2 separate regions of the Homo sapiens genome follow, and region 1 is linked to region 2. Evidence: fine-mapped expression QTL. A gene starts in region 2. The other region holds a variant in brackets. All regions are shown on one strand. Distances are between the middles of the regions. Region 1 has its middle 51 kb from the start of IL34. Region 2 holds the start of FCSK (fucose kinase).

Region 1 (4,386 bases), 140 kb after region 2:
TTTCCTAGCAATAGTGTCTTTTGCAGAGCAGAAGCTTTTAATTTTAATAAAGTCTAATGTCAATTTTTTATTTCAAGGATCGTGCTTTTGATATATAGAAAAACATCACCAAACCCAAGATCAGCTAGATTTTCTTCCTATGTTATCTTCTAGAAGTTTTATAGTTTTGCATTTTATGTTTAGGTTCAAGTTTCATTTTGAATAAATTTTTGTGAAAGGTCTAAGGTCTAAGGTCAGACCTTAGAATCAAGATTTCTTAGTACCTAGTTTGTTGTTGTTGTTGTTATTTTTTGAGACAGGATCTCACTCTGTTGTCAAGGCTGGAGTGCAGTGGCATGATTGTGGCTCATAGCAGTCTTGAACTCTGGGCTCAAGTGATCCTCCCACCTCAGCCTCCCGAGTAGCTGGGACTACAGGTGCATGCCACCATGCTGGGCTATTTTTTTTGTATTTTTTCTTTTTTTGTGGTGATGGGGTCTTGCTGTGTTGCCCAGCCTGATCTCAGACTCCTGCCCTCAAGCAATCCTCCTGCTTTAGCTTCTTGGAGCACTAGGATCAGAGGTGTGAGCTAGTGTACCTGGCAATATCTAGATTTTTTTCTTGCAGGTGGATGATCAATCATTCCAGCACCATTTGTTGGAAAGACTATCCTTTTTCCATTGAATTGCCTTTGCTCCTTTGTCAAAGATCAGTTGACTATATTTGTGTGAGTCTATTCTTGGTTCCCTATTGTTCCACTGATCTATTTGTCTGTTCTTTCACCAATACCACACTATCTTGATTGCTATAGCTTTAAGTAAGTCTTGAAGTCAGGGAGTGTCAGTTCTCTAATTCCATTCTTCTTTTTTGTGTTGTCCTTCTAGGTCTTTTGCTACTCTGTGTAAACTTTAGAATCAACTTGTAGATATTACAAAATAACTTTCTGGGATTTTTATTGTGTTGCATTGAATCTACAAAGTTGGGGAGAACAACCATCTTAACAATATTGAATCATCCTATCCATGAACATGGAATATCTCTCCATTTATTTAGATCTTTGCTTTCTTTCATCAGGGTTGTATAGTACTCCTCATACAGATCTTGTACATATTTTGTTAGATTTATAGTGAAGAATTTTATTTTTAGGGTGCTAATATAAATGGCATTGTGCTTTCAATTTCAAATAGGTAATATGTGCATACAGTAAAAACATTCAATAGAGAGAGATTGGTTTATAGTGAAAAGTGGCTTCCTCTACTTCTCATTCCCTAGGCCTCCATTCATCTATCCAAAGACAGTTACTGATGCCTGGTTCTTATGGGTCCTTCCAAAGATTGTATGTGTATATTCAAGCTCTAATCTAATTCAAGCTCAATATCTAATCCTCACAAGAATTCTGCCTGGCAGGTCTTATTATCTCTGAGGGAGGGTCAAGGGCCCAAAGAGGACTTTCTGGGGAGGACTCTCTTCCTCTTCAAGAGCTCAAGCAGAACACACTGGTCCTGCCAAGATCTAGGGGCAGGGCTGCTACTGCTCAAGGCCAGAGGAAACAGGTTTTGGAAGGGAGGGCTTCTTGCCAAGCCAGTGGGTACAGATGAGGAGGAGGTGAGGAGGAGGCTTTGGGAGGCTGCCAGTCTACTCTGGGCAGATTCATATCAAATATTCTAGGCCTTGGGAAACCCTCATATTTCCAGGTGGCTGCATTTCAATTTATCTCTCTCTCTCTCTCTCTCTTTTTTTTTTTTTTTCTGAGACAGAGTCTCCCTCTGTCGCCCAGGCTGGAGTGCAGTGGTGCGATCTCGGCTCACTGCAACCTCTGCCTCCAGGGTTCAAGCAATTCTCCTGCCTCAGGCTCCCAAGTAGCTGGGGTAACAGGCGCCCGCCACCACACCCAACTAATTTTTTTTCTGGTATTTTTAGTAGAGATGGGGTTTTGCCATGTTGGCCAGGCTGGTCTGGAACTCCTGACCTCAGGTGATCCGCCCACCTCGGCCTCCCAAAGTGCTGGGATTACAGGTGTGAGCCACCGTGCCTGGCCTGCATTTCAATTTCTTAGTTCTGTTTCCTCTCTAGTTTTCTTCTCCTTCTTCTTTCTCCTCTAATTCCTTCTCCTTCTTTTTCTTCTTCTGAGACAGGATCTCACTCTGTCACCCTGGCTGGAGTACATGACTCACTGCAGCCTTGACCTCCTAGGTTCAATTAATCCTCCTGCCTCAGCCTCTCGTGTAGCTGGACCACAGGTGTGCACCACTGTGCCCTGCTAATTTTTATTTTTAATAGTGATGGGTTCTCACTTTGTTTCCCAGGCTGGTCTTGAACTCCTGGACTCATGTGATCCTCCCACTTCAACCTCCCACAGTGCTGGGATTACAGACATGAGCCACTGCGCCAGGGCTCCTCTCTCATTTTGTAGGAACATTCTTCTGGGGAGTAGTCTAACCTTGTTTGGCTGACCTCAGGAGAAATGGGATTTGTCTTAGTCTGTTTGGGCTGCCATAAGAAAATCCGGCTGGGCGTGGTGGCTCATGCCTGTAATCCCAGCACTTTGGGAGGCCGAGACAGATGGATTACTTGAGGTCAAGAGTTCGAGACCAGCTGGGCCAACATGGTGAAACCCCATTTCTACTAAAAATAAAAAATTAGCTGGG[C/T]GTGGTGGTGTGCACCTGTAGTCTCAGCTACTCAGGAGGCTGAGACAGGAGAATTGCTGGAACTTGGGAGGCAGAGGTTGTAGTGAGCTGAGATTGTGCCACTGCACTCCAGCATGGGCGACACAGCGAGACCCCGTCTCAAAAAAAAAAAAAAAGAAAGTTGTATAGACTGGGAGGCTTGTAAACAACAGAAGTGTATTGTTCTAGAGCCTGGGAAGACCAAGATCAAGGCGCTGACAGATTTGGTGTCTGGTGTGGGCCCTTGTCCTAGGCGGCTGTCTTTTCCCTGTAGCCTCAGAGGCAGGAGGGGTGAGGGATCTCTCTGGGGTCTCTTTTATAAGGGCACTAAATCCATTCAAAAGGCCCACCATCACGACCTCATCATCTTCCAAAGACTTCACCTTCTAATACCTTCACCTTGAGGTGATGAATTTTGGGGGAGACACAGATATTCAGACCATAGCAGCATTTATTTATGCCAAGACTAAGACTGCCCGGAAAGGTGGCTAGGGCATCTCCAGAGGCACAAAGAGGACCGTGGTCATGACAGGCTGTGATATGGAGCCAGGGAGCGTGAGTTGCTGCAAAGCAGGCATCTGAGTGGCAGATCTGGGCCAAATCAACTTCTCCCCACGTCTTCCTCCCAGGCTGGAGGTGACTGTCTTCCACATGGCGTTGGGCACACTGGCATCCCATTTCCCACCACTGCCTCAGAAACTGGAGCCCCTGAAGCCACGCATATGCCTCTCTGTACCCGTCCCCCACACCCTGCCAAAAATATTTGTGCCCAGTTGCAGTGGGGGTAGAGCGACTATTGCCTGTGTGTGTCATGCTTATAGTAATGGTAGCTTACCACTGACTGCAAATTTCATTCCCTCTTTATTAAAAAAATTGGTTTTTTGTAGAGACAAGGTCTGGCTATGTTGCCCATGCTGGTCTCAAACTTCTGGTCTCAAGTGATTTCCCTTGGCCTCCCAAAGTGCTGGGATTACAGGCATGAGCCACCGCGACCAGCCTCATTTCCATTTTACAGAGGAGGATGGGACTCTGAAGCCAGACCTGTACTTGTACCCATAATACTCCATTGCCTCCACAGGGTCCCAGCACCCAGGGTATAGGCACGCTCAGTAGAGGCCGTCCCCAGCTCAACCTGTTTGTATGTGGATCACTTGAGCAGCTCAGGTGGGTGCCTGCTGCTTAACCCTCCTAGTGAACTGAGCCCCTTCTCCTCCGTTGTGCTCTGGGGTAGTTCCCAAGTGACACTGCTTTGGGCCATTACTGACTTCCTTATTTCCTAGGGGCCCATCTCCTAAAGTGAAGTTACCCCCTCACAGAGTTCAGCCAGTTTTTTAGCTTTTTTTTTTTTTGGAGACAGTGTCTTGCTCTGTTGTCCAGGCTGTAGTCCAGTGGCACGATCATGGCTCCCTGTAGCCTTGAGCTCCTGGGCTTAAGCGATACTCCTGCCTCAGCCTCCCATGTAGCTGGGACCACTGGCACATGCCACCATGCCTGGCCAAGTATTAATTTTTTCGTAGAGATGGGGTCTCTCCATGTTGCCCAGGCTGTTATCGAACTCCTGGGCTCAAGTGATCCTTCTGCCTTGGTCTCCCAAAGTGCTAGGGTTAAAAGTGCTGGGGTTATAAGTGTGAGCCACTGCCTCTAGCCCAGTTTTTTAGTTCTTGTTACAAATTGCCAAGTAAGGACTAATCCAGAAAGACTGGAGTATTTTGTCAATGAACATGTTTCAAACATATGTATC
Region 2 (4,386 bases):
AAAATTAGCTGGGCGTGGTGGCACATGCTTGTAATCCCAGCTACTCAGGAGGCTGAGGCAAGAGAATCACTTGAACCTGGGAGGCGGAGGTTGCAGTGAGCCGAGATCACACCACTGTACTCCAGCCTGGGCAACAGAGTGAGACTCTGTCTCACAACAACAATAACAAAAAAATTGGCCAGGCTCATCTTGAATTCCTGACCCCGAGTTTTCTGCCTGCCTTGGCCTCCCAGAGTGCTGGGATTACAGGCATGAGCCACTTCGTCCGGCCCTAATTTATATATATTTTAGAGACGGGGTCTTGCTATGTTGCCCAGGCTGGTCTCAAACTCCCAAGCTCAAGCCATCCTCCCACCTTGGCCTCCCAAAGTGTTGGGATTACAGGCGTGAGCACCTGTGCCCAGCTTTAGGCTCCTTATTAACAACAGATTTGGAAAGTACATTCTTGTAAGAAAAATTCAAACAATACAGATAAAGCTCAAGTTCTCCCCGCTTGTCCCCATGCTTAGCAGTCTCTCCCTAGCATGCGTTCGCTTCCAGCCCTGTTCCTGTGTATCCACACACTATCTGTCCATAAACATTATTTTTTATTTGAGGGGCTTCCCATACATATTGCTCTACAACTTGCTGCTTTTCCCTTAACATGATGTCCTGAACATCACTCCCTACTGAACATATAGAGCATCTGTCTTGCATGGATGTGCCTAGTTTAGTTTTCCAGTTGTAAACCAAAAAGCACCAGATACTGGTCTCAATCAATTTACAAGTTTATTTTGCCAAAGTTAAGAATGTGTGCACCTGGGAGACAGGTCTGTACCTTTCTCCAAAGATGATTTTGAGGGCTTCAATATTTAAAGGGGAAAGGTCAGATATTGGGGAAAGAGGAATTTTTTTTTTTTTTTTAGACAGGGCCTCACTGTGTTGCCCAGGCTGGAGTGCAGTGGTGCAATCTCAGCTCACTGCAACCTCTGCCTCCCGGGTTCAAGCGATTCTCCTTCCTCAGCCTCCCAAGCTGCTGGGACTACAGGTGCGCGCCACCACGCTCAGCTAATTTTTGTATTTTTAGTAGACGGGGTTTCACCATATTGGCCAGGCTGGTCTTCAACTCCCGACCTCATGATCCACCCGCCTCGGCCTCACCAAAGGGCTGGGACTACAGGTGCGAGCCACCGTGCCTGGCCTGAAAGAGGAAATTTTTAAAAGGCATGGGTAGGTAAGAGGCAAATGGCTGCATTCTTCTGAGTCTTTGATAAGCCTTTCACATGTTAGAGGGGGATAGAGGACTAGTCACTTATGCATTCATCTAGCTCAGTGAATATGCATTTTTACATAAGAAAAAATAAACATAGGGCAGAGGAAGCAATGAGATATGCATTTGTCTCAGGTGAGCTGAGAGATGACTTTCAGTGCTGTCAAAGCCCAGCACCTGTGAAGATAAGCTATAAATTTACATTGTCACTGAAATTCCACACAACTGTTTTAGGGTACAGATTTGGGGGCACACAAGGAATTTCCTAGTGGGCAAGTTGTGAGGGCCAGGCCATATCTAGCTTTTTTATCTTTGTAGTTATCTTGTTTAAGAATAAAATGGGAGGTAGGTTTCCCTGATGCAGTTCTCAGCTTGACTTTTCCCTTTGACTTAGTGACTTTGGGGTCCTGAGATTTATTTTCCTTTCACATAGTAACCTAGAGAGAGACACTCAGAGTATTTCCAATTGTCATCTATGACAATCAATGCTGCCATTCACAACTTTCCCAAAAGGTCCGCAGATCCCCTCCCCATTACGGAGTTGGAAAGTTTCTTCCCAAAGGATCCACGTGATGAAACCAGCGCAAACCTTTCCAACTGCAAATCGAATGGCAGCTGCTTCCGCTTGGGCAAAGCGTGATTTTTTTTTTTCCTCCATCAGTGGATTTTTCTCCAGAGGAAAGCGGAAGCTCCTGGTGCCGTCCAGAAGGTGTTAAAAAAAAAAAAAAAAAAAAACCCAAACGAGAAAACAAACAAAAAAGCTACACATTAACCTATTAACCTGGATCCCGGAGTCCCAGAAAACGGGCCTCTGTCTTTAAGGCGCTTCGGTCCTCTGGGAGTTGTAGTTTCGTGGGTCCTGGAGCGGCCCCCTTCCCATCTCCCTTCTGGATTGCAGCCCCGCTGCCCTTCAGGAAAGCGCTGCCCCGGCCACCCACGCTGGCCTATGCGGTGGCTCCGACCGTGTTTTTTGCCGGACGGGGGCTCGGCCTTGGGGGGGCGCGGAGGTGAAACTACACTTCCCGGAGTGCACCGCGAGGGTCGCGCAGCCTCGCGTTAAAGAGCCCGCTCCGCCGAGCGCCGGGCGACGGCAGGTACGTCAGTCCGCGAGGGTCGCCGCAGCGCCCCTTGCGCCCCTTGCGCCCCTTGCGCCCCCTCAGCTTTCCGGTGCACCCTCCCTGACTGGGAGCACCGAGTCGACCCGCGGGCCGCCCGGGTCCTGACAGGGAAGAGTCCCCGGGAGCTCTGCGGTGCCCCGGGAGCCCACAGGTGTTTCTACGCTCCCGCGTCCATTTGGCCTGGGTCTTCCAAGGGGAGCCCCGCGACCCGGCTGGTGCGGCCGGACCTGCTGGCAGCTGGGACCGGGAGGGATGCGGGCCTCAGAGGATCCTCACCCTGAGGCAGGTGGGGCCCTGGATGCCGGCGCTGCTCTGATTTTACTTTGAGGCCGCTTCTCCTCTCTCAGTTTACCCGGCCAGGGCTCAGTATTATGCACAAATCTCAATGATGTGCTCTTGGGTAATTTACAAAACGATTTTACTCCCAAGTAACTTCTTTCGGTCTGTTATTTAGAAGGCAGCAAGTCAGAGTCCTCCGTGAGCCTTTTTTTCCTCTTTAAAGTTCTAAAATGTGCAGTCCCTGACCCACCTGTCTTCAAAAGGTTCATATGAAGAGTTCTTAGTACTTTATTCTATCTCTGGCTCCCCAACCCTATCCCAGTCTTGGACAGCGTGGGGCTGAGGACACTAAAAAATATTTCAACTTGATCTCAGCAGATGAGGCTGTATTGAAAGTGGGTAGAGGCTGGGCGCCAAGGCTCATGCCTGTAATCCCAGCTACTTGGGAGGCTGAGGCGAGGGAATCGCTTGAACTCAGGAGATGGAGGTTGCAGTGAGCCAAGATCACGCCACTGCACTCCACCCTGGGCGACAGAGCGAGACTACGTCTCAAAAACAAAACAAAACAAACCAACAACAACAACAACAAAAGAACCTTAGGGCCTTAGGGCACACTTTCTCAGGACCTCTTGAGATTGTGTAACTCCAGCAAACTATTAATTAAAAAAAAAAAAAAGGCCGGGCGAGGTGGCTCACGCCTGTAATCCCAGCACTGTGGGAGGCGGAAGCAGGTAGATCACCTATGGTCAGGAGTTTGAGACCAGCGTGGCCAACATGGCAAAACCCCCTCTCTACTAATAATACAAAAATTAGCTGGGCGTGGTGGTGCACGTCTGTAATCCCAGCTACTTGGGAGGCTGAGGCAGGAGAATCACTTTAACCTGGGAGGCGGAGATTGCAGTGAGCCGAGATCGCGCCATTGCACTCCAGCCTGACGACAGAGGGAGACTGTCTCAAAAAAAAAAAAAGCCAGGCATGGTGGCTTACACCTGTAATCCCAACACTTAGGAAGGCCAAGGCGGGAGGATTACTTGAGTCCGGGAGTTGTAGGTCAGCCTGGGCAACAAAGGGAGGCCCCATCTCAACAAAAAATAAAAAACTAGCAGGACTCATGCATAGTCCCAGCTACTTGGGAGGCTGGGATGGGAGGATCGCTGGAGCCCGGGAGTTTGAGGCTGCAGTGAGCTGTGATCACATCACTGCGTTCCGCCCTCTGGTGACAGAGCCGGACCCTGTTTCTCAAAAACAAAACAAAACAAAACAAAAGCCTAGCCTGCCTGTGCTATTAAAGCAATGGCAAAAGCCAAAATTACTTTTGCACCAACCTAATAGCTATGTTTCTGCTTTTTAAACTACAGTTTTCTTGTCTAGAGCTTCAGTGAGATAAGAACCAATTCTTAGGACTGTTGGGTGGGTCATATGAAGTGACACTGATGTGCCTTTGCCATAGTGCCTGAAAAAGCACTCCATATGTATTAGCTACTTGTATCATTTTACCTTTTTTGTTAATCTCTCAGGGGATGTCCCTCAGCCTTGCTTGATTCCCGAGGCCTTCCCTGATTTTTTTCTTCTTCAGGACAGTCTTTAACTCAGAGAATGTTTGAGAGCTTCCAGTCCTTCCTCCTTCAGGGACAGGTTAAACTCTCCTGCTTCCTTGCCTGGCTGGAAGGATTATCATTCATTGAGCCACTGGTGTGTGCCACATACTTTACATTGTATTTCATGCTGAAAACAGTCCTG

What was found. PIP is the estimated chance that this variant, and not a neighbour inherited with it, causes the effect.
Region 1: its variant is the best candidate, but not a certain one, in a credible set for the expression of FCSK in sun-exposed skin (GTEx, PIP 0.77).

What each region holds. Positions count from the first base shown.
Region 1 is chr16:70,593,244-70,597,629 of GRCh38, forward strand. It overlaps a transcript of IL34 not described here. Among named protein-coding and RNA genes, the nearest start is that of IL34, 51 kb to the right of the region's middle. The variant C/T (reference allele first, on the strand shown) is at 2,628.
Region 2 is chr16:70,452,288-70,456,673 of GRCh38, forward strand. It overlaps FCSK (fucose kinase), which reads left to right and starts at 2,308. Exons shown (of 24, transcript NM_145059.3): 1 at 2,308-2,343. LOC124903708 (a long non-coding RNA gene) reads right to left here and starts at 2,249. Exons shown (of 2, transcript XR_007065104.1): 1 at 2,031-2,249; 2 at 750-1,180.